Homo sapiens: one gene and its partners. The protein of the gene in region 1 interacts with the protein of each later gene in a pairwise test. Each region holds a gene or a part of one and is shown in the gene's direction. Other genes may lie near its edges.

The links.
Region 2: the proteins of ZNF417 (region 1) and RNF187 interact in binary tests that used the Homo sapiens proteins (3 or more experiments, as listed by UniProt).
Region 3: the proteins of ZNF417 (region 1) and NAB2 interact in binary tests that used the Homo sapiens proteins (3 or more experiments, as listed by UniProt).
Region 4: the proteins of ZNF417 (region 1) and PICK1 interact in binary tests that used the Homo sapiens proteins (3 or more experiments, as listed by UniProt).

What each region holds. Positions count from the first base shown.
Region 1 is NC_000019.10:57,906,418-57,914,226, reverse strand, and holds part of ZNF417 (zinc finger protein 417), read left to right. Parts: intron 1-2,037; coding exon 2,038-2,167; intron 2,168-4,112; coding exon 4,113-5,677; 3' UTR 5,678-7,809. UniProt on the Homo sapiens protein: May be involved in transcriptional regulation.
Region 2 is NC_000001.11:228,482,670-228,490,397, forward strand, and holds the start of RNF187 (E3 ubiquitin-protein ligase RNF187), read left to right. Parts: upstream 1-4,712; 5' UTR 4,713-4,819; coding exon 4,820-5,209; intron 5,210-6,290; coding exon 6,291-6,383; intron 6,384-7,728.
Region 3 is NC_000012.12:57,084,470-57,092,610, forward strand, and holds the start of NAB2 (NGFI-A-binding protein 2), read left to right. Parts: upstream 1-4,644; 5' UTR 4,645-4,802; coding exon 4,803-4,885; intron 4,886-6,655; coding exon 6,656-7,529; intron 7,530-7,978; coding exon 7,979-8,112; intron 8,113-8,141. Other genes in the region: NEMP1 (nuclear envelope integral membrane protein 1), read right to left, coding at 3,345-3,615. UniProt on the Homo sapiens protein: Acts as a transcriptional repressor for zinc finger transcription factors EGR1 and EGR2. Isoform 2 lacks repression ability.
Region 4 is NC_000022.11:38,066,973-38,074,781, forward strand, and holds part of PICK1 (PRKCA-binding protein), read left to right. Parts: intron 1-731; coding exon 732-798; intron 799-1,099; exon of another isoform or gene 1,100-1,176; coding exon of another isoform or gene 1,177-1,435; intron 1,436-2,060; coding exon 2,061-2,150; intron 2,151-3,865; coding exon 3,866-3,919; intron 3,920-4,709; coding exon 4,710-4,772; intron 4,773-5,504; coding exon 5,505-5,638; intron 5,639-6,027; coding exon 6,028-6,120; intron 6,121-6,800; coding exon 6,801-6,851; intron 6,852-7,334; coding exon 7,335-7,479; intron 7,480-7,809. UniProt on the Homo sapiens protein: Probable adapter protein that bind to and organize the subcellular localization of a variety of membrane proteins containing some PDZ recognition sequence.

The sequences.
Region 1 (7,809 bases):
GACATGAGCCATCACGCCTGACAGACAGCTAGGTTTTCTAATGCGGATGATAAGGGCATGAAAGAGGAATCAGGCATGAGCCCAAGGTTTTTGATCTTAGCAGCTGTAACCATGGACGCTGCATCAGCTGACATGAAGTTGGTATTGACATAATATTGACTGTGGATATCAAGAGTGTTGTTTTGGCCATATGAAGAGTCAGTGACCAATAAATGGTGGCATTAAATGGATAACTAGACATACAGGATGGGGTATCTGGGAGGGTGTTGATACTGGAGACATCCAATATTTGAAAGCTAATGGGTGAACTTCAGTAAGTTAGTTATGGGTCCATTTAGGAGGACATGCTTCAGATTTTGGTGGTAAATCTTTTCAGGGGCCAGGAAGGTGTGACTACAGGCTGAGGAGTGGATCTCTTACTTACGTCCCTGAGTGATGTTATTGGGCTTCCTAAACACCTGAGAGGGTGTGAGTGAACATCATGGCAGGATGTATCAGACAGTAGAGTTTGGAAGGGGACATAGACATCCGAGGAGAGAATAGATGAGATAGATGCATGCAGAAGCATAGGAGTAAGGAAGATGACACTTCTGCCTGAGTTGGTGCCAAGTTGTAACTATTTATCACTGTCTGGATTCATAAACGTTTTGAGATGACTTTGGGAGTGCCTGGAGAGTTTCATTCAGCTTGGTGCATGTGGGCAGTGAAAAATATGCTCATCTGTGATAGTAGATGTGGTTTGGTTCACAAATCCAGGGGCTGGGCTTTAAACAGCATTAGATGGACAGAGGAGGGTTGCTACAGCTGAGGTCTCAGCTGGTGCAGCACAAAAGTGAAATAGGTCCATGGATATCTGAAGCCATATGTGGTTCTGTGTGGCTATGGAGTCATTCCGGGAGACGTTCACAGGATGATTTGGGATTACCACTGCTATTGTAAACCATGGAAATTCTGTGTTAATATTGGATCCTATTTGTATTTGTCAAGCATAGTCTGGATGCTTATCCACATTTTGGTATAAGGCCAGAATTGAAGGCCCAATATGATGTGTCACTTTGACATCTTGTGAAAGTGGGACAACCTTAAAAGGTGTGAGTACAAATCTCATTCCCACTCTGCTCTCTTGAATAATGTATCCTAGCCTAACAGCCCGTTTTATCAAGGTGATAAGGCAGGGTTCCAGGTTGTTATATTTTGTGGTGGGTTTCAATTCCATCCCTACCAGCAGAGTTATGGAAACAAACCATTGCATATTCCCAAGGGAATCATGGGCCGTTATACCCTCTTCATCTTGTGAAATAATTTTATTTGTGGGGGCTGGGTGCAGTGACCCACCCCTGTAATCTCACTTTTGGAGGCCAAGGCGGATGGATCACTTGAGACCAGGAGCTCAAGACCAGCCTGGCCAACATGGTGAAACCCCCTCTCTACCAAAAAAAAAAATACAAAAATTAGCCGGGTATAGTGGTGCGTGGCTGTAATCCCGGCTACTTGGGAGGCTGAGGCACGAGAATCACTTGAACCCAGGAGGCGGAGGCTGCAAAGAGCCAAGATCATGCCACTGCACTCCAGCCTGGGTGACAGAGCTAGACTATGTCTCAAAAAAAACCCCAAAAAACAAAGTTCTATTTGTGGGGATGCCAGAGAGAGGCTGATGGTAGGGAAAACTCAGGTAGGGGTGGCCATGGGGATGTGTCTTTGCAGTATAAAGAATGATGTATATTTAGAGAGGGAGTTTGTCCAATGGGCTCAGGCAGCTGCCCTGGGCTTTACATGAGCTTGGATATCGCTATTCAGAAGGGGATGGACCTTTTTATGTCAGGACCTCAGCATGGATACCTATTTGTCCACTTACTGCTTATTGCTGATGGCAATTGACCAGTGGGCCCATGAAGAGACAAAGGCACTAGTGGACATAGTTTCAACACTATGTTGGGGACCTTGGGAGGAGGATGGGCAAGTGTGGGTGTGTGGGAGAGGTGGGTTGTGGTACCTCAGCAGAGGGGCTGTTTGTGGTTTCATCTGTCACTATCATAGCAGGGCACTGTGACCTTTGAAGATGTGGCTGTGAACTTTTCCCAGGAGGAGTGGTGTCTTCTTAGTGAGGCTCAGAGGTGCTTGTACCGTGATGTGATGCTAGAGAACCTGGCTCTCATATCCTCGCTGGGTAAGTTGCTCACGCTCACCTTTGTGACCTGAGCTAGTGTTACTGTTCCCCTGTTTTTCATTGACAGGACTGTCTTTCTCACTTAAGGAGCCTGGACACAGGTTCCTTCTACACTTCTCTATGTAAGTTGTGTGTATTGCCTTTTCCTTTCCTTAAGCACCTCCAACACCTGCTTTGCTCCAGGCTCCCAGGGAAGGAGTCAGAGTCAGGAGTCTAATAGGCACCTAAGTGTATCCACTTTGCCTGCTCTCTGGCTGTCAGGTGACTGTCCAAATCGGTAGCTCTTGTGTGCCCAGGTTCTATTAACACTTCCTTCCTCTATCTGACAATGCTTTGTGCCTCCCTGTGCCAAGAATTGCCTTCATTGACATTGTCACTACCTACATAGACCATAGACCATAGACTCTTCTTGCAAGACCCTGCTTAGGAATTCTTTTGTAATACTTACCTTACTCTCCTGTGGGCTGTCAGGTGCTTAGTTGTCCTGAGCTAGTGTTGGCTGTTCATCTCTGCTGTCTCTCCCTTCATAGTTACATCGTCGGGTCCTATGTACTGGGTGTGAGATGGAGAGACCTCCATGTTTGACAAGATGTGGTTCAATTCAGGCTCATCACGATAGGCTCAAAGGGAGCCTGTCCCTCAGGAGTGCCATGCTGGGGGAGGGCATGACTTCAGGGGTTTATCCAAATCATACCAGAAACCATTTATATTTGCCAAGTGTTTTTGTGGCAATATGAGTAGGCACACACTATTTGTCTTTTTCTCCCCATTGTTGAGAGTTTCACACGTGTTAGTTCTGTACCTTTTCACTTCTACTGTGATATCCACCCCAGCACTAATACTCACATCTCACCCATTTTTCTTGTGCTTTCATCTGCACTTGTCTCTGATATTGGTGTATCGATTACATATTAGGAAGTGTATGCCCTATGTTAAACCATCCATGACCACCCTCTGCTGTGTTGTACTCATGTTTTCTTGGTCTTGACATATGCTTCTATATTTATATTTTTTGAGATGGAGTTTCGCTCTTGTTGCCCAAGCTGGAGTGCAATGGCACAATCTTGGCTCATTGCAACCTCTGCTTCCCAGGTTGAAGTGATTTTCCTGCCTCAGCCGCCCAAGTAGCTGGGATTACAGGCCTGCACCACCACACCTAGCTAATTTTTTCTTTTTTTAGTAGACACAGGGTTTCACCGTGTTAGCCAGGCTCGTCTCCAACTACTGAACTCAGGTTATCCACTTGCCTCACCCTTGCAAAGTGCTGGGATTACAGGCATGAGCCACCGCGCCCAGTCCATATGCTTCTACATAGCACTCACATGTCATTAGGAGATAAGGTCCCGTACACAACTTGTGTTTAGAGGAAGGAGCTGTGGACCCTGCCTCTACTCCCTGTGTTGCCTGTATGCTTGTGCTCTTTACATCATGAGGCCTCCTGGATTCTGTGACCTTTATAGCCCAGTAATGCTAGGCAGCTCATTCTTCTTTTTATTATTATTATTATTATTTTGAGATGGAGTCTCGCTCTGTTATCCAGGCTGCAGTGCAGTGGTGCGATCATGGCTCAATGCAAACCTCCACCTCCCGGGTTCAAATGATTCTCCTGCCTCAGCCTCCCGAGTGGCTGGGATTACAGGCGCTCACCACCACATCCAGCTAATTTTTGTATTTTTAGTAGAGATGGGTTTTCACCATGTTGGTCACGCTGGTCTCGAACTTCTGACCTCAGGTGATCCACCCGCCTCAGCCTCCCAAAGTGCTGGGATTACAGGCGTGAGCCACTGCGCCCGGCCAGCAGCCCCATCTTCAACTTGAAGCCAACATTGTGTTCCTGCAAATATTTCTATAGATTAATTCCTCAATTTGTGAGACGTACTTGTGGGTGGGCTGTGCCTTCCCGTCAGAGGTACTTTGCACTTGACCAGCATTTTCTTGCTCTCAGGTTGTTGGTGTGGATCAAAAGATGAGGAGGCACCTTGTAAGCAGAGAATTTCTGTACAAAGAGAGTCTCAGAGCAGGACTCCTAGGGCAGGTGTTTCTCCTAAGAAGGCTCACCCCTGTGAAATGTGTGGCCTCATCTTGGAGGATGTTTTTCACTTTGCTGACCACCAGGAAACTCATCACAAGCAGAAGCTGAACAGGAGTGGAGCATGTGGAAAAAACTTGGATGACACTGCATACCTTCATCAGCACCAGAAGCAGCATATTGGAGAGAAATTCTACAGAAAGAGTGTCAGAGAAGCATCGTTTGTAAAGAAACGTAAGCTCAGGGTGTCACAGGAGCCATTTGTCTTCCGCGAGTTTGGGAAGGACGTTCTGCCCAGTTCAGGATTGTGCCAAGAAGCAGCTGCTGTAGAGAAGACAGACAGTGAAACTATGCATGGCCCACCCTTTCAGGAGGGAAAAACTAATTACAGTTGTGGAAAACGCACAAAAGCCTTCAGCACCAAACACTCAGTTATTCCACACCAGAAACTTTTCACTAGAGATGGATGTTATGTGTGCAGTGATTGTGGAAAATCCTTTAGCAGATATGTCAGCTTCAGTAATCATCAGCGAGATCACACTGCAAAAGGACCTTATGATTGTGGAGAGTGTGGGAAATCTTATAGTCGAAAGAGCAGCCTTATTCAACATCAGCGAGTCCACACTGGAAAGACAGCTTATCCCTGTGAGGAGTGCGGGAAATCTTTTAGTCAGAAGGGCAGCCTTATTAGCCATCAGCGTGTTCACACTGGAGAAAGGCCTTATGAGTGTAGAGAATATGGGAAATCTTTTGGTCAAAAGGGTAACCTCATTCAACATCAGCAAGGTCACACTGGAGAGAGAGCTTATCACTGTGGGGAATGTGGGAAATCTTTTCGTCAGAAGTTCTGCTTTATTAACCATCAGCGTGTTCACACTGGAGAAAGGCCTTACAAGTGTGGAGAATGTGGAAAATCTTTTGGTCAAAAGGGCAACCTCGTTCAACATCAGCGAGGTCATACTGGAGAAAGGCCCTATGAGTGCAAGGAATGTGGGAAATCATTTAGGTACAGATCCCACCTCACTGAACACCAGAGACTTCACACTGGGGAAAGACCTTACAATTGTAGGGAATGTGGGAAATTATTTAACAGGAAGTATCATCTTCTCGTTCATGAGAGAGTTCACACTGGAGAAAGGCCATATGCGTGTGAGGTATGTGGGAAATTATTTGGTAATAAGAACTGCGTGACTATACATCAGAGGATTCACACTGGAGAAAGGCCGTATGAATGCAATGAATGTGGGAAATCATTTCTTTCCAGCTCTGCGCTTCATGTTCATAAAAGAGTTCATTCTGGACAAAAGCCTTATAAGTGCAGTGAATGTGGAAAATCCTTTGCTGAATGTTCCAGTCTCATTAAACACAGGAGAATTCACACTGGAGAAAGGCCTTATGAATGTACCAAATGTGGAAAAACATTTCAGCGAAGCTCTACCCTCCTTCATCATCAGAGTTCACACAGGAGAAAGGCCTTATGAGTGCAGTGAATATGGGAAATCGTTTGCTGAAACATCCCGTCTCATTAAACACAGGAGAGTTCATACTGGAGAAAGGCCTTATGAGTGCTGTCAATCTGGGAAACATCAGAATGTCTGCTCTCCTTGGTCTTAAGAGACTTCGCATTGGAACGGAGTCTCATTCTGTCACCCAGGCTGGAGTGCAGTGGTGCAATCTTGGCTCACTGCAACTTGGGCCTCCCAGGTTCAAGTGATTCTCCTACCTCAGCCTCCCAAGGAGCTGAGATTACGAGTACACCACACCATGCCCGGCCAAATACTTGGTTTTCAGTACCACAAGAGCTATGAGCTGGTTATCCACTTCATGTGGAATCATAAGTGTCCCCAAGTGACAATACGTATAGATTGCTGGGCAGTGAAACAGTTAAGATGTCACCGTAGCTTGCTTTCTATTCAACATCTTTCTAAGATTACCTTACTATTTCTTTTGTTCCAAGTTTGTATTTCCTCAGAGTTCTCACATATGGAAAGGATACACACTTTGTAGAAACAAGAACTTTATGTTATCCAAGTTCTGGGATAGCCATGAGCTCCAATTACCTCAGAGCTCCGAGTCCTCTACTCAGTACCCGTTGAGATTTATGTGTTCTGAGGCTTTTGTCTTCTAGCTACTTACTTCATTCTCCATGGGTAACGTCATTCATCCACATTAACTAATTTCCTCACTCCAAGCTCTTTTCTGGAGATAATCTCCAGTCCCTGTGCAGACACTGTCATTGCACTTTCTGCTGAAATGGTAGTTTCTTGCCAGCAAGGTGAGATTATGGAATCCAGAATCTTTTTTCAGGGGCCACATGCCCATTTCCCCACTTGCATGAATGTCGACACTGTAGCCACAGTTTTGGCCGTAAATGTGAATTTGGCAAGTAACCACTGTTCCCAAATTGGGAAATGTCCCAGTCAGAAGAAGATTATCTGGGACACTGATACTGACAGGGAGATGGGACATTCTGAGGGACCCGGAGGCAGGGAGCCACCTCCTCAGCTTCCCTGAGGGCTGCCTAGAATCTCTCTTGTTTCCTCTCACTCTGAATTATTCTTCCTCTCATGACTGACCAAACACATGGAACCTCACAAAGTCCATTTTAAGAGCTTTATCTTGTGAAGTGAAGAACATGAAGATAGTTTGAATCAAAGTTATTGAGTGGACACTTAATGTCTTTATAACATTTTTTACATATGTGTTTGTGTTTTTTGGGGAGCATAATTTGCAAATGGAATATCTGTTATTTTACTAAGATGCTTCATGGATACAAGAGTTAAAACTTCCTGTCCCATTTAGTGAAACAAAAGGTTAAGAAATGTGGATAAAGCTTGTAAGTTAGAAATGGCAAGATAATCAGCTATATGAAGAATCTCAGCTGGGTGTTTTGGCTCAGGCCTGTAATCCCAGCACTTTGGGAGGCTGAGGTGGGTGGCTTACAAGGTCAGGAGTTCAAGACCACCCTGGACAATATGGTGAAACCCTGTCTCTACTAAAAATACAAAAATTACCCAAGCATAGTGGTGGGTGCCTGTAGTCCCAGCTGCTTGGGAGGCTGAGGCAGGAGAATTCGTTAAACCTGGGAGGCATAGGTTGCAGTGAGCCGAGATTGCACCACTGCACTCCAGCCTGGTGACAGAGCGAGACTCCGTCTCAAAAAAAAAAAAAAAAAAAAAAAAAAATCTCAATCCCTAAATGTTACCTTTTATAACAGCAGGTTATATGGGCTTAGATATTATCCCTAAATTTTTTTTTTTTTTTTTTTTTGAGACAGAGTCTCACTCTGTCACCCAGGCTGAAGTGCAATGGCATGGTCTCGGCTCACTGCAACCTCCGCCTCCCAGGTTCAAGTGATTCTCTTGCCTCAGCCTCCCAAGTAGCTGGGCCTATAGGTTCCCTCCACCACGCCCACCTAATTTTTGTATTTTTAGTAGAGATGGGCTTTCACTACGTTAGCCAGGCTGGTCTCAAACTTGTGACCTCATGATCCACCCCCCTCAGCCTCCTAAAGTGCTGGGATTACAGGCATCTGCCACGGCACTCGGCTTATCCCTAGAAATCCTATGATAGCATGATGTATAGGCACCTAAAGGCATGGCACTTGAGAAAT
Region 2 (7,728 bases), on another chromosome or scaffold:
AAAACCCAGCCATGAAGAAATGATCTGACCTACCTTGTTAGACTGTAGATCTTAAGACCCTCACTCCAGAGAGGGTCCTGGATGGAAGGAAGGAAGGAAGGAAGACTGCTCAGAGAGGCCATAAGAATCTAGACAGACAGGCCTGGCTGGGTGTCCCCACTTAGGCTCTTCTCATTAGCTCCGACCCTATTTGCCCAATTCTATTTCTGCATGGCTGTCCATACCTTGTGGAACCTAAGCATAAAAATGGATGATTTCCCTCATATCTTGGCCAGGCATGGTGGCTCACGCCTCTAATCCCAGAACTTTGGGAGGCCGAAGTGGGCGGATCACAAGGTCAGGAGATCGAGACCATCCTGGCTAACACGGTGAACCCCCGTCTCTACTAAAAATACAAAAACTTAGTCGGGCGGTATGGCACGTGCCTGTAGTCCAGCTACTCGGGAGGCTGAGGCAGGAGAATCGCTTGAACCCGGGAGGCGGAGGTTGCAGCGAGCCGAGATCGCGCCACTGCACTCCAGCCTGGGTGACAGAGCAAGACTCCGTCTCAAAAAAAAAAAAAAAAAGGACGATTTCCCCCATATCTTTAGGTTTGTATAGACACAGTAAATAAATGTGTCTGCCTTTTCTCCAATTGATCTGCCTTTTGCAATTTTTCTTTCTTTTTTTTTTTTTTTTGAGACAGAGTCTGGCTCTGTCACCCAGGCTGGAGTGCAGTGATGCTATGTCAGCTCACTGTAGCCTCCGTCTCCTGGGTTCAAGCGATTCTCCTGCCTCAGCCTCCCGAGTAGCTGGGACTACAGGCATGCAGCACCATGCCCAGCTAATTTTTGTATTTTCAGTAGAGATGGGGTTTCACCGTGTTGGCCAGGATGGTCTCCATCTCCTGGCCTTGTGATCTGCCAGCCTCGGCCTCCCAAAGTGCTGGGATTACAGGCGTGAGCCACCGCGACCAGCCTTTTGCAATTTTTCATCAAAATTTGAGAGGACCAAGGGTTCCCCTTGGCACCTACACCAGCCACCCTGTCTTGGGAAGTGGGGATGCTGGCACCACACAATGTGGATTCTGCTGGTGGTAAGGGAGAGAGGCTTTCAGGCAACAATCTTTGCCAGTGTATACTTCCAAAAGTCTCTAATGCACACATGTGCAAGTTCATGGCTGCTACCATTTGCTAAGCCATGCCCCTAGTATTGGACCTTCAAGGTTTTTTTTTTTTTCTCCAAAATGAATAGTGATATGACATACATTTCTCTTTCTTTCTTCTCTTTCTTCCTCTCCCTTCCTCCCTCCCTCCCTTCCTTTCTCTCTTTCTTTCCTTCCTTCTTTTTCTCCTTCCTTCCTTCCTTTTCTTTCTTTCCTTCCTTTCTTCTTTTTCTTTTCCCTTTCTTCCTTCCTTCCTCTCTCCCTCCACTCCTTCCTTCTCTCCCCCACCCCCCGCCCCCACCTCTCTCTCTCTCTCTCTCTCTCTTTCTTTTTTTTAAGACAAGGTCTTAAAAAATTCTCTCATTTCCCAGGCTGGAGTGCAGTGGCATGATCACGGCTCACTACAGGCTCAATCTCCTGTGCTCGGGTGATCCTCCCACCTCAGCCTCCCAAGTAGTTGGGTCCACAGGTGCGTGCCACCACGCCCAGCTAAATTTTAAAAATTTTCTGTACAGACAGGTTCTTGCCATGTTCCCCAGGCTGGTGTTGAACTACTGGGCTCAAGCTATCCACTCACCTCAGCCTCCCAAAGTGCTGGGATTAACAGGCATGAGCCACCTCTCCCAGCCACATTTCTAAACAAAACAAAACAGCCCAATTTTTTACAACCCAATTTTTATTATTTTCATTTCCTGTTATTTTTATAGTTTGTTTTCTAAGAAAAGGAATTCCAATCAGAAAATCCTTAATCGATACTGCTACGTGGATTACAAGAAGCAGTATTCACAGAATCAAGTGTTTTTTTTGTTTGTTTGTTTTCTGTTTTTTGTTTTTTTGAAATGGAGTTTCACTCTGTTGCCCAGGCTGGAGTGCAGTGGTGTGATCTCGGCTCACTGCAACCTCCACCGCCCAGGTTCAAGCGATTCTCCTGCCTCAGCCACCCAAATAGCTGGGATTACAGGCACGTGCCACCATGCCTGGCTAATTTTTGTATTTTTTTTTTTTTTTTGAAACTGAGGGAGTCTTGCTCTGTCGCCAGGTTGGAGTGTAGTGGCATGATCTCGGCTCACTGCAACCTTCGTCTCCCGGTTCCAGCTATTCTCCTGCCTCAGCCTCTCAAGTAGCTGGGACCACAGGCGTGCACCACCATGCCCAACTAATTTTTGTATTTTTAGTAGAGACGGGGTTTCACCATGTTGGCCAGGATGGTCTCGATCTCTTGATCTTGTGATCCACCTGCCTCAGCCTCCCAAAGTGCTGGGATTACAGGCGTGTGCCACCACATCCAGCCTAATTTTTGTATTTTTAGTAGAGATAGGGTTTCACTATGTTGGCCAGGCTGGTCTTGAACTCCTGACCTCAGATGATTCACCCGCCTCGGCCTCCCAAAGTGCTGTGTTTACAGGCCTGAGCCACGGCTCCCGGCCAAGTTTCCTTTTTTTTGTTTGGTCTGCTTACTTAATAGTGGAAAGAAAGAGAGTCTCGTTTTATTTTCCTCTTTCTTAACTGGGCAGAGTGTACATTTTTTTCTCATGTGTGTTCAATCATTTGTGTGCTTTTTTTTTTGTGATTTGAAAAATCCCATGACAAGGTGTATTTTCCATCATGCTTTTCCTTACCTAATTTTATAAACTCTTTGTATATTTGTGGTTACAATGTTCCTAATTTGGCTATTTGCCTTTAATTATAATTTTTGATATTTTCTCATTCACAAGATTAGTTCATTATGAAGTTTGCTCATTTTTTATATTTTTTACTTTTCTCTCCAGCAAGTTCCTAGTTGACTCAACAATATCAGCAAGGCTCGGCTGGAAGCCTCTAATCTTTACTACACAGAAATAACCTCGGTTTACTATTCATGTTTCCCACGGGCATCTAGTGCATTTCCAAGTCGATTTAAAAAATCTTCACAAAGACAAAAATACCTCATTAGATCCTGCGCTTGCTTGGAATACAGATTTATAAAAATTTTTTTTTGTTTTTGTTTTTTAAGACAGAGTCTCGCTCTGTCGCCAGGCTAGAGTGCAGTGGCACGATCTTGGCTCACCGCAACCTCCGACTCCCTGGTTCAAGTGATTCTCCTGCCTCAGCCTCCTGAGTAGCTGGGATTACAGGCATGCGCCACCACGCCCGGCTAATTTGTGTATTTTTAGTAGAGACGGGGTTTCACCATGAGCCAGGATGGTCTCATATCTTGACCTTGTGATCCGCTCGCCTCGGCCTCGCAAAGTGCTGGGATTAGAGACGTGAGCCACGGCGCCCGGCCCAGATTAATTTTTTAAAATGCAAAACTTGCACAATCTTATTTTAACCATGCTTGCTTGTTTTCAAAATAATTAAAAAACAAAAACACAAGATTGCTCTTCCCAAAGGCTTATTTCTTTCCTTTAAATTTATTTTTTAAAGAAAAGCTAACGGCCGGGTGTAGTGGCTCACGCCTGTAATCCCAGCACTTTGGGAGGCAGAGGCGGGTGGATTACGAGGTCAGGAGTTCGAGGCCAGCCTGGCCAACATGGTGAAACCCCGTCTGTACTAAAAATACAAAAATTAGCCGGGCGTCGTGGCAGGCGCCTGCAATACCGGCTACTCGGGGGGCTGAGGCAGGAGAATCGCTTGAACCCGGGACGCGGAGGTTGCAGTGAGCCGAGATCGCGCCACTGCACTCAAGCCTGCCTGGCAACAGAGCGAGGCTGTCTCAAAAAAGAAAGAAAAGCAAAGCAAAGCTAACAAATGCTCTTCTGTCATGCATCATCACAGAATCAATGAGAGCTCCCCCCAGCCAGGAGACAGCGGACAACCAGGGTAGCTTCCCAGGGGGCCAGAGGGAGGCTGCGCGAGAAGAGGCTCAGCGGGATGGGTCCACGCAGGGAGATCCCACGCAGGGTGGGCGTATACGAGTGTCCACGTCCGGAGGGCCGTTCAAGGGCGGGTCCCTGAAGGAAGGGTGCACGCAGGGCACGTCCACGCGGGCAGGCCCGTGCACGCAGGGCGTGCCCATGCAGGGCGGGTCCGTGCAGGATGAGAGCAGCGGAGGAGGCCCACGCAGGCCATTTCCCGCCCCGTCCCCAGCCCACGCGGGCGAGCTACCGCGGGGGTACGCGCAGCTCAGATCCTAGCAGCTTACAAAAACAACCTTTTAAAAATGGAACCTTCAAGTAAAAATAAAACTTTGTTTCCCTCTTTCGCAGGAGTTACTGAAGTAGGAAGGGACAGCCCAGTAAGATTTCAGGATACGACTTGGGCCGGTCCGCAGGCAGTAGAGTGAAGCGCGCAGCTGCCAGGACTTGCGCGGTGACGTGCGCCGCTGCCAGGACCTTGCAGGTGGAGAGCATAGTTGCCAAAATCAAGGCGGAGGAGCGCACCGCCGCTAGGATCCAGGCGGAGAAGCCCACCGCGGCCAGGACCTAAGGATGCAGTACACTGCTGCCAGGATCTTGTCTGTGGAGCGCAGCGCGGCCAGGACCTCCGGCTGCAGCACACCGCTGCCAGGATCTTATCGGCAGAGCGCTCCGCGGTCCGGACCCCGCCCCGTGCGCGTCCCCGACCCCGCCCCGTGCGCGTCCCCGGCGTTGGCGTCTTCGTCCTGTTGCTGGTCTCCGTCCGGTCGCCGGCCGTCTAGGTCTCCGGCCCTCCCCAGCCGCTCCTGCGCCCTTGCCGGCCCCGCCGCCCGCAGCCCTGGCGCTCCCTGCGGGCCCCGCCGAGGCCGCCTGCGCCCTGTGCCAGCGCGCGCCCCGGGAACCGGTGCGCGCCGACTGCGGCCACCGCTTCTGTCGGGCGTGCGTGGTGCGCTTCTGGGCCGAGGAGGACGGGCCCTTCCCGTGCCCCGAGTGCGCCGACGACTGCTGGCAGCGCGCCGTGGAGCCCGGCAGGCCCCCGCTCAGCCGCCGCCTTCTGGCGCTCGAGGAGGCGGCCGCGGCGCCCGCGCGCGACGGCCCGGCCAGCGAGGCCGCGCTGCAGCTGCTGTGCCGCGCCGACGCCGGCCCGCTCTGCGCCGCCTGCCGTATGGCTGCGGGCCCCGAGCCGCCCGAGTGGGAACCGCGCTGGAGGAAGGCGCTGCGCGGCAAGGTGCGCGCCGCGGGGTCCCGTGCCCCACCCCGGACGGTGCCCTGCGCCTCTCCGCCCCCGCCCCGGTCCCCCTGAGCCCTGGGCCCTTCCCGTCTCCACTGTTCCTGTCCCCGGATTGTCCCCGTCCCCGGATTGTCCCCCTCCCCTCACCGCCACGGGTCCCCTCTCCAGCGTGTGCTGGGCCCCTCCCTCCTGCGGCTTGCCTCCCCATATTTCCTGCGTCTCTTCGGAGTCTGGTCCCCTTCCCCGTCTTGGTGTCCCCTGCTGGGCGGTGCCTTATCTCCCCACCCCCTACCTTCTACGAAGTCCTTCCCCCACCAGCGCCCATCTTTGTGGTCCCATCACTAGCTGTGCCCTGTCTCGCCCTCATAGACCCCCTCTAGTTCCTACAGATTGACTCCTCCACTCACTCTTCCCTTGGGGGAGACATCACGCCTCTTGCCCCTCTGTATTCCACTGTGTCCACAGGCCTGGCCCACCTTCTCGTCTGCTCCCCGGGCCACCCAGCCCTCGCCTGCACCCCCTGTCCCCTCTCCCATCTTTCAGAAACCCGCTCTGAGAGTCTGGCAGCAGCGGGTCCGGGAGTCTGGAGCCTTGCCCATGGCGGGTTGGTTGTGGGACACAGAATAGGAGACAACAGCCAGCCTGGGGTCCTGCTCTTCAATACAGGGGAGGGGAAGCCAGCCAGACTGTGTCCCTGGGTGCTCCTCCTGCATTGGGGGTCCTGCCACCGGGCAGAGCGACCCCCATCCGGCTCAGGCAGGGCAGGGTGTAGGGCAGGCTGTGCAGACCTTTGGTACAGGCCGAACTCACACTGAACAGGGCCACTTACAGACACAGAACTCCTAAACCCACCTAGACAGTCCCCTTAGCCCCAGCACCCAGATCCTTCTGAATAGGTGTGAAGCCCAAGAAACCTTTTGACTGCCTGTGCGTTCCTGCCCTAGACAACCGGGCTTCGAGGTTATCTCTGGGATGGTCAGACTGTGTGCAGTCAGCTGGGGTGATGTCCCTCAGTACTGGGCTGGGTTGGGGGACCCAGAGCTTCTGCCCACCCCTGGTGACCTTCTTTTCTTTACAGGAGAACAAGGGGTCTGTGGAAATCATGAGAAAGGACTTGAATGACGCCCGGGACCTGCATGGCCAGGCAGAGTCAGCAGCTGCAGTGTGGAAGGCAAGTGGGGGGACCTGGGGCAGCCTGGAATGAGGGGACTGTGGGCTCAGGGCTCTAGACAAAGGGACCACCAGGCCAAGTGGGCCAGGCCTCTGAACTGCTCAGCTGGTTGGTTGGAGGAGGGGCCTCTGGACTTAAGTGAGCTTCAGGGTATTTTTTTTAGGATGTGTTTGTATTTCTCAAATAGAATCTAGCCAAAGCCAGTGGAAGCCTCTTTTTCTCCTCACATTTTACCTGTAGGTGATGGCAGCATCAGACTTCTTTTTTTTTTCCCAAGAGACAGAGTCTCACTTCATTACCCAGGCTGAAGTGCAATGGCATGATTGTAGCTCACTGCAGCTCGAACTGGCCTCAGGCGATCCTCCCACCTCAGCCTCTGGGACTATAGGCACGTGCTACCACACCTGGTTAATTTTAAAATGCTTTTCTAGAGGTGGGGGTCTTGCTGTGTTGCCCAGGCTGGTCTCAAACTCCTGACCTTAAGCGGTTCTCCCGCCTTGGCCTCCCAAAGTGCTATTTTTTTTTTCTTTTTTAGAACACATCTGTAATTTTCTGTGGTCCTCTTGTTCTGATCTGAGAGTTGCTCATTATTTTTTAGAGGCTAGAAGTCCAAGATGAAGGAACTGGCAGATTCCCTGTCTGGTGAGGGCGTTTCCTGGTTCATAGATGGTGTCTTCTCACTGTGTCCTCACATGGTGGAAGAAGTGAGGGTGTCTCTGGGGCCTTTGTGTAAGGACACTGATTCCGTTCTTGAGAGTTCCACCCTCACAACCTCATCACCTCCCAAGGGTCCTGCCTCCTAACGCCATCACCTGAGGGATGAGGATTTCAGCATGGGGATTTGGGGAGGACACAGACATTCAGACCAGAGCAGCGTTACTTTCCTTGGGTGCCTTCCACAGTATTATATCCCAAGGGGACATCCCATAGATTCTTTTAGGTTACTCACCAGTAAAGCTCTTTAGTCGTTTAAACTCTATTTGGTGACTTTTTCCTCGTGTAGTAAAAACCTGTGTGCCATTTTCTCTGCGTTTCATAAATTCCTATCTCCTTCTTTTAACCTGAAAGACAGAGTGCTTTTCACAGGTGCAGCAGCTCTTGGGTAACTGGCTGCATCTCGAGGCTGAGGCCCACGTTTTTACCCCAGCTTGAGGCTGAGGTGGGCTCTGTGCTCCTGGTGCTGCCAAGCCCTTGCCTGCTATCCACAGGCCTGAGGTGCAGGCCTCCCTCAGACAGTGACGGGTTACACATGGGGTCCCTGATGCCACTCAGACCCCTGGCACTCCACACTGCCCTTGGGGCTGCTCTGAACTTCTCCTTGCCTTGTGAGTGGTCAACACTGCCC
Region 3 (8,141 bases), on another chromosome or scaffold:
TCTTATTTTCTATATTTTGAATCTGTTCTTTCCCCCCATGCCAGTGCCTTGCCATCTTTCAACTGAGAGGGTCCTTCAGTATTTTTCAAGCTGACCTTCCTACTGTTTTTGCAGCCATAAATCCTTCCTCCACTCTGCTCCTAAGTGCAGATCTGACCATGCCATGAGTCTTTGTTTCCAGAGTCTTTATGGTTCCAGTAACACCACAGGATGAAGTCCAACATCCTTAGTATGATCTAAAACTCAGAGGCAAAGACACAAATAACTATAATAATGTTATTCAATGTTTGTCACCAATCTGTAATGAAACAATTTCAGAAATTAAGTGTAAGCATTTAGAAAGTTTTATAGGAATTTGACAGAGAAATTTTATATTTATTGAATCTAACAAAATGGTAGTTTATTTTGTTTTTTGAATAATTCATTTTTAGTGCATTCTACAAAAGTAGTGGACAATAATAGATTGGAAATGTTTTAAAAATTGGTCCTTAACCATACTTTGAAAAGCACTGGTCCAAAATATTTTTAATGTAATGTACCTGTACACCTCCCTAGGCTCGTTTCTAACCAGCTCCACCCACCACCCAGCAATAATGAACAACCTTTTATAGTTTCTGAAACATATCACTCTGTTTCATACCTCCACCTCCATGGAAATGCACTTTCTGGCCTCTCTGACTTGACTTCCCTTCCTCCTAGAATTTTTGTTTTTGTTTTTGTTTTTTGTTTTTGAGACTCACTTTTTGCTCTGTGGTGCAGGGATGCAGTGGCGCCATCAAGGCTCACTGCAGCCTTCAACTTCTGGGCTCAAATGTTCCTCCCACCTCAGCCTCCTGAAGTGCTATGATTACAGGTGTGAGCCACCGCCCTGGCCACTCCTGGAAATCTCATACTGACTGCATCATCACCTCCTTTGGATGCCTGTCTAAACCAAGGCCCCTCACAACTCCAAGCAGAACAGATCACTCACCCTCTTATACTTCTGTCATTGTTGTACCCATATTATTGCACTATGTTGTAATTATTCGTTTATAGGTCTATTTCCCCTATTAGTCTGTGAGCTCCTTAAAGGCAGTGGTTAGGATTATCTGTCTTTCAGGAGTGAAACATTTCTTGTAAAATAACTAACTTGAAGGACAACATTCCTTAGATGATAAATTCTGCCATGTTACTGAAAGAGAAAAAAGGGATCATTACTTTATACTTTTCTATTACCAGCCAGGACTTCGGCCTACTACCTTTAGCATCTGAGTGTGAATTAATTTACCAGAATGGTGGACATTTTAGAAGGCCAAGGAGCCAGATTTGTGGGACTCACTGGAAACTTTACAAGGGAAAGAGATATGGAAAACAAATGTCTTCACTTAAACAGTTTTGCCCAGGCTCAGCCCCTTTGGGAGTAAAATCTGTGTCATGTGCCCTTTCAAAGTTGCACAGGCCTGTGAATAGGATCAATTTATTCATTTCAGAGGGTCCACCAGATAACAGGCCTATCCTGGAGAGGTCCTGGATTTCGGCTGAAACAAGCAACTATAATTGGAAATGTGTACAAAGAGCAATGAGGAGGCCACCGAGGGGTGGGAGGAATTAATTCTGCCTGGAGGAGTGGAAGGGGTCCAGGAAGGAGAGGGTGAGCCAAACCTTGCTGAGTGAGTCGGATCTGGCCCAGTGGAGACGTTGGGGGAGGAGTGAGCAGAGCAATCTGCTAGATGAAAATCTACACGTGCGCGTAGGGACGACAGTCTCTGCACTCCTCTTCCGCCCACTTTCCTCCCTTTCCTCGCAATCGTTTCCCCTTTTCTTGGAAAACTAGGACTGAGGATACTGTTTCCCTTCACGGAGGAGACCAGCACAGATAAAAGAATATTAATCCTTTTTATCACGAGATCAGTTCCTCTGGTCTGTCTTTGAGAGCACTGGGGATGGGGAGAGCAGGTGAGTCAGGCACAGAAGTGGTCCTTCTTTGAGTGAGCCAAGGGGACACAGGGGAGAACAGGTCCCATGCAGGAAACAAATGAAAATTTTTGTATTTGTCCCCACTCCCTTTTTGTCACCACTCCCCCCCCCCCACACACACACCTGTCTCTTTATGTTTTTCTATAGTTTCCCATGGTCTCCGTCTTTGTCTTTGCCTCTTTCCCTTTGCTACAGGCTGGAAATTCCTTGTTCTCAACGGAAGGGAGTAGGAGGGGAGTTGGGGGTGGCAGGAGTGGGCGGGAAGAACAGACATCTCGGCAGCTCTGGCTGCGGGCTGCGGGGGCGCTCTGGGCCTCTGGCGGGCCCTGACAAGTCAATGATTTTTTAAATAGGGGCTCATACACAAACCTAGAGAGAGAGAGGAACACAGATATACAAGTGGATATAAAGAAACATATAAATACATAATCTCGGGTACAGAGACACAAACTGGCAGTAGCGTCTTAAATATGCTTAGCATTCTACAATTTAGAGAGTTTTCCCGTACATTCTCTCATCCGAATCTCACGACAATCTTGAGAAACAAGGGCACAAAGACACAAACACCCGGTAGTTTCACTCTCACACACGGGTTCGCACCCGGACCCCCGCTGGCTCCCCTAGGGGAGTGGGCAGGCCCCTTCTGCGGAATTTCTCTTCCCTCGTCCCTCTCTGGCCGAGCACCCCCTCTCCCAGGACCCGGGAGCGGAGAGCTCAAAATCGGCTCCTCCCTCCCCCTCTTTCCCGGATCAGGACCGGGACCCGGGCGCCCCGCGCCCAGTAGGTTGCCGCTCACTTGCTCACGCCCTACTCCGCCTCCTCCTTGGGCGGGCGTCTCCCTCCAGATCCTAAGGCTCAGCGCCGCCCCAAGGGGGCCGGGGTGGGAGGGAGGGGGGCGCCTCGAGCAGAGGCTGCGTGGGCGGAGGATGTGCGTCACGGGGAGCGTGGGCTGGGGGAGGGAGGGGGCACGTGGAAACCCGGGGCCAGCGGCTGGCAGCCCGGGATCCAAAATAACCTGAGGTGGGGGGGGAGGGGTCGCCCACACCCCGTACGGGGTCGGGAGCGTCCCCAGGGGAGCCCGTCTAGCCGCACCCTCCAGTTGCGGGGCGGGGGACTGGGAGACGGGACTCTGCTCGTTCCCACCACCCCCACTGTGTTTGGCGCTTAATAGGTTGGAGAAGAGGACCTGAGCAACTGAAATCCTCCCACCAACAACGCGCTCCTTCTCCCCGGACCCCACAAGGCGGAAAGGTCTCCTCGCTAGGCCACATTGTAAAACCAGCCCCGGTCCACGGCCTCCACGCCCCGCCATGCCCCACCCCAGCCCCTCAGAAGTGCGGACAGAGAGGCGGGGCGGGGCTGAGATTCCGGACTAGGGGAAACCTCACCTGTGGCCAGTCCGCTCGCTTTCCCCGGCCCCCACCCCCCCTCCTTTCCCTGGGGCTTAGAGTCTATGGGCCGGGCCCTTAGAGCCCCCGCCTCCCCCAACAGCCCTCCCAGCCGTGGGCGGGAGTGCAATGCGAACCAGATGGGGCTAGGAGAAACCAAAGGGGGAGACGGTGGTGGGTTGCAGAGGCGGGGGCTAAGCTCCTTCAAGGCGCTCCTCCTTCCAGCTCCGCCGCAGGAAGTCACGTCGTAGGCTCCCGACCTCTTACTCATCTTCCACTAGACTCTCGGGCGAGGTCCCTAATAGACGGCCCCAGGAAGGGTATCGTCTTTGTCACACAAAATTCCCAGGCAGGGCCTCATCCTCAGCAAACAGAGGACAAGTGGAGGAATCCCTGCCTGACCTACGCGCTGACAAAAGCCGACGCGTCTAATCAACACGCGCACCTAAGTGGTGGCGTGCAGCATAACCCTCCCATTCCTGTTTCCCAAACTTTCCAGGCTAGCATGGAGGCCTGGGTTTCTGAGAGCGACCCCCTCAGATTATTCCATTGGGGCTGAGGAGGGGCGCGGGGATATCTAGGAGATCCCTGCAGAGCCCCACGCTCTCAGGCCCGCCTTAAGTGCACACTATACGGGAGTCAGATGCACGCACAGGAGAAGCCGCACAGCCCAGCCTTCGCTAACTTTTCCCGGCTCACTGCTAACATTCACACGTCCAGCACCACAAGGCCTGAGTATGGGCAACGGGCGTCCCCGTAGTTGTTTAGGCGCGTGTGCACGTCCGTGCGCTTCTGTGTCTTTGTGTACTTGTGCGTGGTTGTGAAACTCCTCTCTCAGCTCGGAGGGGTGGGGGAGAGAAGGAATGTCGCCGGCGGGGCGCTCACGTGGGTACGTGGGCGCCAAGAGGGCCGGCTGTGCATCCGGCGTGGGCGGCACAGAACGACCTCGCCCCGCCCGCTGGGTCCCCAAGCCCGCCCTGCACAGCCGGGCCTCGGTCACCTCGGTCCCCAATTCGGCGCCCCGGCTCTGAATCCCCGCCCCCGCCTCCTGCTCCACACCCCCTCCCCCCCCGTCTCCGCCTCTCCCAGTCTCTAAGCCGCGGCGTCTCCGCGGCCGAGAGGCCCCAGCGCCCGCCTCCCCGGCCCCCGCCCCCACCCCCGCCCCCGGCTCTGCCCACGCCCTCCGCCCGCCAGCCCGGCAGCCAGCGCAGCTCCGGGCCTCGCTCCCTGTGCGTCCTGCGGGGGCGGAGGCGCGGAGAGGCGGCAAGCGCAGCCGGGGAGGGTGGGGGGGCAGAGGCACAGACAGAGGCGCGGAGGCTCGGAGAGAGAAGACGTGGAGGGAGGGACAGAGCCTGGACAGCGGTGGACACGGCATCGTGCGCGGGGAAGAGGGCAGCACGCAGCAGGCGCCGAGCGCCGGGCACCGAGAAGGGCAGCCCGGGTGATCTCCGGCCGTCCATGCACAGAGCGCCTTCCCCCACAGCCGAGCAGCCGCCGGGCGGAGGGGACAGCGCCCGCCGGACCCTGCAGCCCAGACTCAAGTTAGTGGGCAAAGGGAGGCAGCGGGGAGTGGAGATGGGTGGAGCTGGACTTGGGAATGGGGTCCAGAGGGCGGAGGTCGAGGGGAGGACGTGGGGAAGCAGGACGGGGGTGGGGGGTGGAGACTGATGGAAAAGGGGGTGCGTCTTCGAATTAGGGGGCCCTGGGAGCAGGCAAGCATCTGATGAAGCTGGATATGAAAGAGTAGTACCCAAATCTCCATTCCTGGTTTACTCTGTGGGCTCCATCTGGCCTAAGAGCCCCCTGCAAAGAATGTGGGAGCCTCCAAGCACCAGGGGATGCCCTGGAGCTCGAGCTGGCATCAGTGCGGAAGGTGGGGGGACGCTCAGTTGCCTCAGTCCCTCGTTGGCACGGAGCGCGCGGGCCCCCGGTGCCTTTGAGTTAAAGGAGCATCAGCGGGGGAAAGGGGGGGTGACGAGGGAGGCAGGGAGGCCTTAGGCGTTCCTTCCCATATCTGTCCCTTTATTCACAGAGCGGGGAGGGGAGTTTCAGTGTGCAGCCCCTTCATCAAGAGGCCTTGAGCCGCTCCCCCACTCCACTTGAAGATGCGGGTGGAAAATATGGGAGAGGAGAGTAGGCGGGAGCCCCTGGGCGGTTTTCGCCTACAGACGCTACCACTGTGGGAGTGTGTGTGGGCGGAACGGCCCCGGAGCAGAACAATTGCGCCCCTCCCCCTGCCACGGCCCCTGAGCTGAAGGAAAAGGCTGACCGAGGAAGTGGGGAGTGTCACTGCTAGGAGAGGGGCCACTGAGGAGCACTGGGCAGCCTGGAAGGGTGGAGAGGTTCTGAGGGGAGAGAGGAAGCGTGCGTTAAGAATGCTTAACCAGGCCGGGCGGGCCCGGTGGCTCAGGCCTGTAATCCCAGCACTTTGGGAGGCTGAGGCGGGTGGATCACGAGGTCAGGAATTCGAGCCCAGCCTGACCAACATGGTGAAACCCCGTTTCTACTAAAAATACAAAAATTAGCCGGGCATGGTGGCGGGCGCCTGTAATCTCAGCTACTCAGGAGGCTGAGGCAGGAGAATCGCTTGAACCCGGGAGGCGGAGGTTGCAGTGACAGCGCCACTGCACTCCAGCCTGGGTGACAGAGCGAGACTCCGTCTCAAATAAATAAATAAATAAATAAATAAATAAATGCTTAACCCCTGGGAAAAGCTGAGCGGAGAAGAGTAAGGCACCACCTGGCTCACTGAGTGGGAAAGCCAGGGAAGGTGCCACACCCTCCCTTTTAGCCACCTGGGGCTGTGGCCCCTTCACAGGGAATGAAGCTGGCCAGCAGCGTCCACTGTGGGGGAGACTGGGCTCCTACATTCACTTTAGTATGGGTGACTTCACTTCAGTGTTGAGACTGCTGAGTGTTTAGAGGGGAAGGTGAGGATTGTGTTTTGGGGGAGAGGGAGGTCCAGCCATCCCAGGTCGGTGCTGGTCAGCCTCAGCGCTCAAGTTCTTCTTGCCCCAGACCAAAAAGATAAAAGCTGAAGATAAGGTTGTAAGACGCTTCGACTCCTACAGACACAGGCCACTGACTTTTGGGGCTTCGGGCCAGTCTAGGACGGCACTGGCTTGTCCATGCCTCTGAGCAGTGCCTGATTCTGAGAGTCTGTACTCAGACCTGGGCACTGGGCAGGATAGCATCCAAATGAGGGAGGGGAAGAAAAGCAGGCAGGAAAGAGGGAACAATTGTTAGTGTGGGTTGGTACCCAGTAGGGGGACTTGCACCGACTGCCTCTCTCTTGTGCCCCTCCTTCTCAGGCCCAGTGCCCGAGCCATGGCACTGCCTCGGACGCTGGGGGAGCTGCAGCTGTACCGGGTCCTGCAGCGCGCCAACCTCCTTTCCTACTATGAGACCTTCATCCAGCAGGGAGGGGACGACGTGCAGCAGCTGTGTGAGGCGGGTGAGGAGGAGTTTCTGGAGATCATGGCACTTGTGGGCATGGCCACCAAGCCCCTCCATGTCCGGCGCCTGCAGAAGGCACTGAGAGAGTGGGCCACCAATCCAGGGCTCTTCAGTCAACCAGTGCCTGCTGTTCCCGTCTCCAGCATCCCGCTCTTCAAGATCTCTGAGACTGCGGGTACCCGGAAAGGGAGCATGAGCAATGGGCATGGCAGCCCAGGGGAAAAGGCAGGCAGTGCCCGCAGTTTTAGCCCCAAGAGCCCCCTTGAACTTGGAGAGAAGCTATCACCACTGCCTGGGGGACCTGGGGCAGGGGACCCCCGGATCTGGCCAGGCCGGAGCACTCCAGAGTCGGACGTTGGGGCAGGAGGAGAAGAGGAGGCTGGCTCGCCCCCCTTCTCCCCCCCTGCAGGGGGAGGAGTCCCTGAGGGGACTGGGGCTGGGGGGCTGGCAGCAGGTGGGACTGGGGGTGGTCCAGACCGACTGGAGCCAGAGATGGTACGCATGGTGGTGGAAAGTGTGGAGAGGATCTTCCGGAGCTTCCCAAGGGGGGATGCTGGGGAGGTCACATCCCTGCTAAAGCTGAATAAGAAGCTGGCACGGAGCGTTGGGCACATCTTTGAGATGGATGATAATGACAGCCAGAAGGAAGAGGAGATCCGCAAATACAGCATCATCTATGGCCGTTTCGACTCTAAGCGGCGGGAGGGCAAGCAGCTCAGCCTGCACGAGGTGAGAACCCCCAGGCCTCCTAGGATTGCCCTTGACTTCCAGGTCTCCAGCCGCTTACCTCTGCGAGTTTCTACAGTCTCCGACTATCTTTCATTATCTCTTGACCAGGACCCCAGGCCCTGATCCCCTCCCCAACAGGCCCCTACCCCAGCGGCCGCAGTGCTTCCATCCTCAGCTGAGGGGGAAGCAGAGATACAGGCAGCACCGAGCTGTTCAGCTCCTTGTCACTCAGGACCCCACAGGAGAGGAGGAGGCCCCGGGCATTCCTAGGAAGCTGTGGGTGCTGACCTCTGTCTTCCCACCTCAGAAAGCTCCCATGTAGTGTCAAAACCAAAGCAAGCGTCTGATGGATGGGCCTCATTTGTCCAATGGTGAAGGGGTGTGAGGAGGTCTGGTGAGGCAGCGGGGAAGTTCGAATTCTGACTCTCCTGGCTGCCCTCCCTCCACAGCTCACCATCAACGAGGCTGCTGCCCAGTTCTGCATGAGGGACAACACGCTCTTATTACGGAGAGTGGAGCTCTTCTCTTTGTCCCGCCAAGTAGCCCGAGAGAGCACCTACTTGTCCTCCTTGAAGGGCTCCAGGTGAGACCCCTTCCCCAGGTCCTTCCTGG
Region 4 (7,809 bases), on another chromosome or scaffold:
GCACAGAGCAAGTGCTCAGATGTGCTGTTCGATGAGTAGAGGGATTCCTGGGGATGGGGTGTTTTGGGGTGGAGGAGGGAATAATCAGTGTAGGGAAATGACACGGCAAAGGCTTGGAGTGTGGTTTGCGTGGGGAGGGAAGAAGGAGAGCCTGACCTGGCCGAAGCACAAGACATCAGAGACCGCCAGGCTGTGGGCCCGGTGCCGGCCCTGTCCCCACTGATTCCCCAGGGCTTGGATGTAGAGTAGGAAGGGAGGGGCCTGGGATCAGACAGGGTCACAAGGTGGGGCCATGTCACAGCGCTCAGCCTGGCCCTTACTGGGGCTTAGGATTCTTTTTTTTTTTTTTTTTTTTGAGACAGAATCTCATTCTGTCATCCAGGCTGGAGTGCAATGGTGTGATCTCAGCTCACTGCAACCTCCGCCTCCCAGGTTCAAGTGATTCTTTGCCTCAGCCTCCTGAGCAGCTGGGATTACAGGCACGCGCCACTACGCCCAGCTAATTTTTGTATTTTTAATAGAGATGGGGTTTTGCCATGTTGCCCAAGCTGGTCTCAAACTCCTGACCTCAAGTGATCTGCCTGCCTCAGCCTCCCAAATTGTTGGGATTACAGGTGTGAGCCACCGCACCCGGCCTTGGGCTCAGGAGTCTCAGTCCAGAACAGTCTTGGCTGGGAAGGGGCTCAGGGTGTGGAGCCTCGCTCACTAGTCTGTGTGTGCTGCTCTTCCAGGGGGAGGTGACCATCCACTACAACAAGCTGCAGGCGGACCCCAAGCAGGGCATGTCCCTGGACATTGGTAAGCTGGTCAGAGCAGTTACGGGTGTCCAGCAGCCTCCCTGGATGGGCCCTGGCCCAAAGGAGAAGTGCCACAGCCAGCCCTGCCCTCCCCTTTATGACAGGAGAATCCAGAGTTACATGGCTGTGGGCTCTGACCTCTGACCAAGCAAATCTGAAAGGCCTGGGAGGCCTCCCGGTGCTCTCCCTGCATCTGTTCTTGTACTCTGTCCCTGGTTTCTCACTCCCCCGCGTTTCACCCCTACCTCCCTGCTTCTGCCATCTCCTCTGGGGACTTGCTACCCTAGGGTTGTCCTTTGCAGGCCAGCGCCTCGGCTTCCATGGCCCAGGGCCTCACTCTTCATAAAGGGAGAGCAGCCTAACCCTGGCCTGGCGCCTCATGCCCTCTAGCACAGCGCACTCCTCCCTGGCCTCTCCTGCCATCAGCTCCCAGGGGGACTCTGGATCTGAACTGGACCTCAGGCATTGGGCAGAGGGTCTGCGCCCTGGGACAAGTTCCCTCCTGTTAGAGGGGCTGAGCCTCGGTTCTGTAGAAACTTTAAGACTCAAGAGCTGGACAGCAGCTTCGAGTCCTCTGGACCGGCCGCTTCACATTATGGATCAAAGCCTGAGACCCAGAGAGGGCGCTGCAGCCCCTGGTGAGCGCACACCTAGGTCTCAGCTCTGGAGCCCAGCAATCCCCTTCATACACCCTAGGGCCAGAGGCCAAGGGGCTAAGGGCAGGCTGGATCTATCTGGGAGCTCCCTCCGAAACCCTCTGGTTCCAACACAGGACTAAGTCCCCTTCCTAGGACTAAGCTGGTCAGATGCAGTAACTGAGTCTGGGGTCCGAGCTTCATGGTCATTGATGGTGCCCATTACTTTCACATAACCAGCCCAGGGGCCCCTCTTCTCCCCCTCCCCTTTATGTGACACCCTAGGTCCTGATGTGACACAGAGGAGGGGAAGAGGCCTCCTTGGCTTCCATTAGCCTGTGCTGAGCCCGGGCAGCACTGGGCTCTCAGCAACCAGCAGCTGATGTTGCGTAGCAGGCCCTGGGCGAAGCGCTTCATGTTTAACTGCCCAGGCTGCCAGCACCTCTGTGAAGCAGAGGGAATAGGGCAGGGGCCTAGGACCTCCCCACTGGACATTCCCCACTTCACAGCCACCCCCAGCAGCCCTTCTGCCCCCTGTGGGGTGCTCCCTGTGCATGGAGGTAAGGCTGGGGGCAGGGATGGCCTCTGGGCAGCCACAGACTCACCAGGTCCTTTGTCCCCCGCTCAGTGTTGAAGAAAGTCAAGCACCGGCTGGTGGAGAACATGAGTTCAGGGACCGCAGATGCTCTGGGCCTGAGCCGGGCCATCCTGTGCAATGGTGAGTCCCTTCCCACCCAGCTGGGGCCCCGGGGACTCAAGCCCAGGCTGAGAAGAGTGGGGGGCACCATGGCTGCCCACCAAGCTGCTGTGGGTCCCGCGGGTCTGACCCTGGCCTCTGCCCGTGGAACTGAGAAGTCACCATCTCTGTACCCCCAGAGGCCTCTCCAGCTCCCGGAGGGTCCACAGCTGTCAGCTGGGCTGTCTTAGCCAGTGCCCCTCAGGTCACAGATGGGAAAATAGACTTAGTGTGGGGAGGTGCCTCTGCCCCTGCCCTCAGCCCCTTACCCCTCACCCCAGCACTCTCGCGGCCCACCTCCTGCCTCCTTTGTCCAGGAGGTGGTGCTGCTGCCCTTGCCTCTGCAGGTCCTCCCTTCGTGGTGGCTGCGCAGGCGAGGGGGGAGGCGTGTACATGCACATTTACACACGCATGCACACATGCGCACACACTTTCCCTCCCTGGGGTGGCCAGCGAAACACTCAGTCCCCCTCCTACCGTCGCCAGTCCGAGTTTAAAAATAGCAGCAGCTCTGCAGTGTGCCTGTGGGGTAGATATAAATACTTCTAGAAATTGTAGGCTCAGCTGGGCACACTGGGCTTTATTGGCTAAGGAAGTGGGGGTGGGGACTGAGCTTGTTCCAAATGGTGTACAAAAGTGGCGGCTGCTATTTTCAGCCTCCTGGTGCCGTGCCTATAAATCCCTGTTACTGTAGTTACCAGCCGTTGAGATGAAATTAGAACTGGTTGTTGTGTTTTTCCCCCCAAACCTTGCAATTTCCCTGGCCTTAAATAGGGTTTCTAAAATTGAAGCTGTCATGATGTCCCATGACCCAGCTAAAAACAACAACACGATGCTTACATGGCTCCTTTCCTGCCGCTGGCCAGGTGCTAAGGCTCTGGGGAACCCAGGCCTGGAGGCCACCGGGTGGCCAAAGCCTCCCCAAGACCTCTGAATTGCTCCCTTCCTTCCCCGACAGCCTGTCGCACTGCCACCTCCCTGCCCAGAGAGGCCTGAACACAGCCTCCGCTCCTCCCCTCTTCTGCTAAAAAACCCTGACCCAGGTCAACACAGGAGGCTGGGGAGCAGAGAGCACCTGACTGCCCCACCTCTCCCCTGCAGCCCTCACCATCACACTGCTGTCCATCGCCCGGCCACTGGGCTGGCTTCTCTGCTGGGCTTTCAGCCTTGAGAGCAAGACTTGGCTCAAAGTGAGCCTGACATGGTGGCTGGCACACAGTGGGTGCTCAAGAAACACTAAGCCAATGACTGATCACCAAGGCCTCTTCCCAGTGTGAGCTCTCTCAGCCTTCCTGAATTTCCCCCTCCCTCCCCAAGTTGCGTTTTCCCTTCTGAGCCATCTGTGTGCTTGGGAGGCAGAGACCATGTCCTTCCTGCGCTAGAGGCCTGGCTGCTCCATCTCCATTCCTATGGCCCCTGCCAGCCTTCCTCCCCAGCTGTCAGCAGGCTTTGTGTTAGAAGTGTGGGAGCTTTGCCTGCTAGGCACGGACCCTCCGCTGGCCATGAGGAGGGCCTAGTCATTTACAAAACACCTTTGAACCCAGCTGACCCGAGCTGCCAAATCCCCCTCCCTGGGACCCCTGATCTTTCCCTTCCTGGTTCTCCTCTGGGGTTGCCTCTCCCCTCCCCAGCATGGCCCTGGGCCTCCTGTGGCTTGCTGAGCCCACTGACCTCCCCTCTTCTTTGAATCCCGACAGATGGGCTTGTCAAGAGGCTAGAGGAGCTGGAGCGGACCGCTGAGCTATACAAAGGTGGGTGGGGGGTGGCCTCGTCCTGGCACTAGCTCTACCCCAGGGAGCATGCTCTCAGCAGAGTGGCAACAGGGGTGCTGGCACTAGGAATGCCAGCCTACAAAATACTAGGACCATGGGCATTAAGAGTTCTTAAGAATATATACTTCTTCTGAATTTAAAAATAACTCAGGGGCCTGGTGCAGTGGCTCACGCCTGTAATCCCAGCACTTTGGGAGGCTGAGGTGGGCGGATCACTTAAGGTCAGGAGTTTGAGACCAGCCCGGCCAACATGGTGAAACGCCATCTCTACTGAAAATACAAAAATTAGCCAGGCATGATGGTGTGTGCCTATAATCAGTACTCGAGAGGCTGAGGCATGAGAATCGCTTGAACCAGGGAGGCAGAGGTTGCAGTGAGCCAAGATCACACCACCGCACTCTAGTCTGGGCAATAGAGCAAGACCCTATCTCAAAAAAAACAAAACCTGATACTCATAAAAATTCAGAGAATAGCACTTGTAAACATAGCGAGAGTCCCCCGGAATCCCACACTGTCCCAGGGCTAAAGCCCACAGCAGGCTGTGTACCCCTGCATCTTACAAAATGCTGGCGCCCCTGTCTGATGGGGCTCCTCACGGGTTGGGTCGGACTGAGCTTTTACCCCTGGGCTGTGGTTGGGCGGTGGGGAAAGGCCATGTATCAGGGCCTAGCAGAGGCCTTGGGTGGCATGGGCAATTGGAGGCCTTGCCCTGGGCCAGTGTGGTCCCCGCCATGCGTCCCCATTCCGCATCACTCGGTCTCTCCCACAGGGATGACGGAACACACCAAGAACCTCCTACGGGCCTTTTATGAGCTGTCGCAGACTCACCGGGGTAATGGCATCCCCCAAAGCTGTGGTGTGACCGTGGGCAATCCCTGGGGCCTCTCACTCCCATGCTGAGGTGGGTCAGACCCACAGCGCCTGACCTCAGGCTCCCTCTGGGCTGGGCCTGGTCCCAGGTGCTGGGATTTGCGATGGGCCTGCGGGGAACATCTAGATCAGCTGGTCTCTTAAGGGCCGCAACGATGAACAGGCCCCACCCTGTCTCCTCACACTGCCACTGGCAGTACACAAGGCCCTTGCTTATTTATATTTCTGACAACCTGTAACTCTGGGCAGGCCGACTGCAGCTGACCCCAGCTACTGCAGAAAATGAAGCCCAGACAAAGGAGAGGGCCACACTGCTCCCAAGTGGTGGAGCTGTTGTTCCAATCCAGGTGTCTAGACTCGGACCAGTGTTCTGCCTCAGGCGGCGCCACCTCCACAAACCTTGACCCAGTCTTCTCTCACTGGTCCCTCTGGGGAATGAGGGCCAACTCCCTTGGTGTGTACACTCAGGACTCTAGGGGGCACAGACCAGCTCTTGGAGGTGTCAATCCAGTTTCCTCCAGGTGTAGACTCAGCTCCTTCAGGGGGTTTAGACCAGCTCTCTTGGAGGTGTAGCCCCTGTGCAGACATTGGCTTCCAGCCTGCCAGGCCCCCTGCCCTGCTTCTCCCCAACAAACCCCTGGCTTCTCTTAGGGGGCCAAGTAGGGGCAGCCTTCAAGGCAAACTTGTCCTGCAGCCTTTGGGGACGTGTTCTCCGTGATCGGGGTGCGGGAGCCCCAGCCAGCTGCGAGCGAGGCTTTTGTGAAGTTCGCCGATGCCCACCGCAGCATCGAGAAGTTCGGCATTCGGCTTCTGAAAACCATCAAGCCGGTAGGTCCTATTGAGCATGTGTGTGTCTGGCGTGTGAGGGTGGGGAGGGGAGAGTGTGGCATGCAGAGAAGGTCGTATGCTGGAGTCCTGTGCCTGGGTACAGCCTCTGGCTCAGTCACCCACACAGTGGACTGTGGGTGAGTCACTGTGCCCCCTTGGGCCTTGCCATTGACCTCTGGGCTGGCTTCTGACCCTGGCTCGCCACTGAGTCACAGCTTGCCCTAGGCCTGGCACTAGTCTTCTCATCCTTGAGAGGGACAAGGCATCAGGGAGCACCATCTGGCTCTGATAGTCGAGTCCACCAACAAGGGTGACGCATCAGTGCCATTCATTGTCACCCTGGCACACCCCTGCCGTGACAGCCTCAGCATCCACCCACCCTCTTCCAGATGCTGACGGATCTGAACACGTACCTCAACAAAGCCATCCCGGACACTCGCCTCACCATCAAGAAGTACCTGGACGTGAAGTTTGAGTACCTGGTGAGTAGTCCAGGTGCCCAGGCTGCTAGGGCAAGCGCCCACCCTGGAGATCTGCCCCACTTCAGTCAGCCATGCTGCGGCCAGCGAGGCCAGCCAGAGCTGACAGCATGTCTGCTCCAGGTGTGGGCCCAGAGGCCCAGGGAGGTGCAGCCAAAGCCCTGCTGCGCCTGCACAAAGAAGCATCTGAGAGCCTGGGGCGGGCATGGCTCTCGCTGTGTGCACTCTGACCCCTTGGGATTTGTTGCCTTTAAACAATGGGTTAGACTAGGTGAGTGAGCATAAAATGGGTGTCAGTGAACGTTCGTGAGTTTTACATTTAATTATTCTACAGTCAAAGGAATTGAGAGAAAATGCTCTATTAAGCAAGCCAAGGTTCCTTTGCTGCAGGACTTATCAGAGCCTTTGCTAGGCTGATGTGCAGTGTGAATTTTCAAGGGTCTTCCTAAGCTCCTTTAACGACAGACCCCTTTTTCCCCAGAGCATCTCTTGGGCCTTGAGTTTGGTCAACTCGGCCGCCTAAGCCTCAGGCCCTGTCATCCCTCAGCACCTGCCGCTGCCCGCTCTGGGACTCCCTGAACACCTGCGCCAGCCTCTCCTGCTGCGTGTGGGTGATGGGGGTGGAGCTGGGGACCTGGGGTGGGGGTAGTAGCCACTCTGACAGCCTCACCTGTCCCACACAGTCGTACTGCCTGAAGGTGAAGGAGATGGATGACGAGGAATACAGCTGCATTGTGAGTGTTGGAGGGGGTGGGGGGCTTGTACTTCCCCCCACCTGGTCTGCCAGGGATAGCAGGTGGCTCAGGCCAACCCGGGAGAGACCGGGGGGACTTGGCTGGACTCTCGTTCCTGGAGATTTAGGGCCATCTTCCCAGTCCCGCTCGCTGGGCCTCGGGGTGCTGGGCACCCGGCCGGGAACCACTCCCTCAGTCTGGGGGACTCTTGGAGGGAAATCGGATTTTCTTCACTCCTATGAGGCGCTTTTAAGTGTTTGATTTTTCTGCTGTCGGGATCCATTTCGTGGCCAGTGTTCATTGAATGTGGCAGAGGTTTGGGTTTGGTTTTTTCCTCTCTTCAAAGCTATCACTGAGTGCTTCTGAGAAACACTGAAGTCTCAGAAATGAGGTCTCAGGAATGAAGAACAGCCGTGGCTTTGAAAGCACAGTGCGGTGCGAGGCCGTCCCTGAGCAGGCACTCCTGTCCCACCCCCGCCCCAGGCCCTAGGCGAGCCCCTTTACCGGGTGAGCACCGGCAACTATGAGTACCGCCTGATCCTGCGCTGCCGCCAGGAGGCGCGCGCCCGCTTCTCCCAGATGCGCAAGGATGTGCTGGAGAAGATGGAGCTGCTGGACCAGAAGCACGGTGAGCGCCGCCCTCCTCCCCGTCCGCTCTCCATTTCAGAGGTGGGAAAACTGAGGCCCAGAGGGGTACTCTCAGGGCCAGGCCACGGCCCAGATGTAAAGCCCCTCCAGGAGCCCAGCCATCTGCCCAGAGCCTGGCCTGGGTGGAGCTGGCCTGTGCGCGTGGGCTCCGTGGGCTGCCATCCATGATCCATTTACCCTGCAGCCTCCTGCGTTCCCTGAACTGGGAGCGGGGAGGCCCCGGGCTGGGCGGCCCCTGCCTCCGCCCCTTGCCAGGTCATGAGGGGTCAGGGAAGTGCCCGAGTGGGAAGCCCAGGGGAGGCGAGAGGTG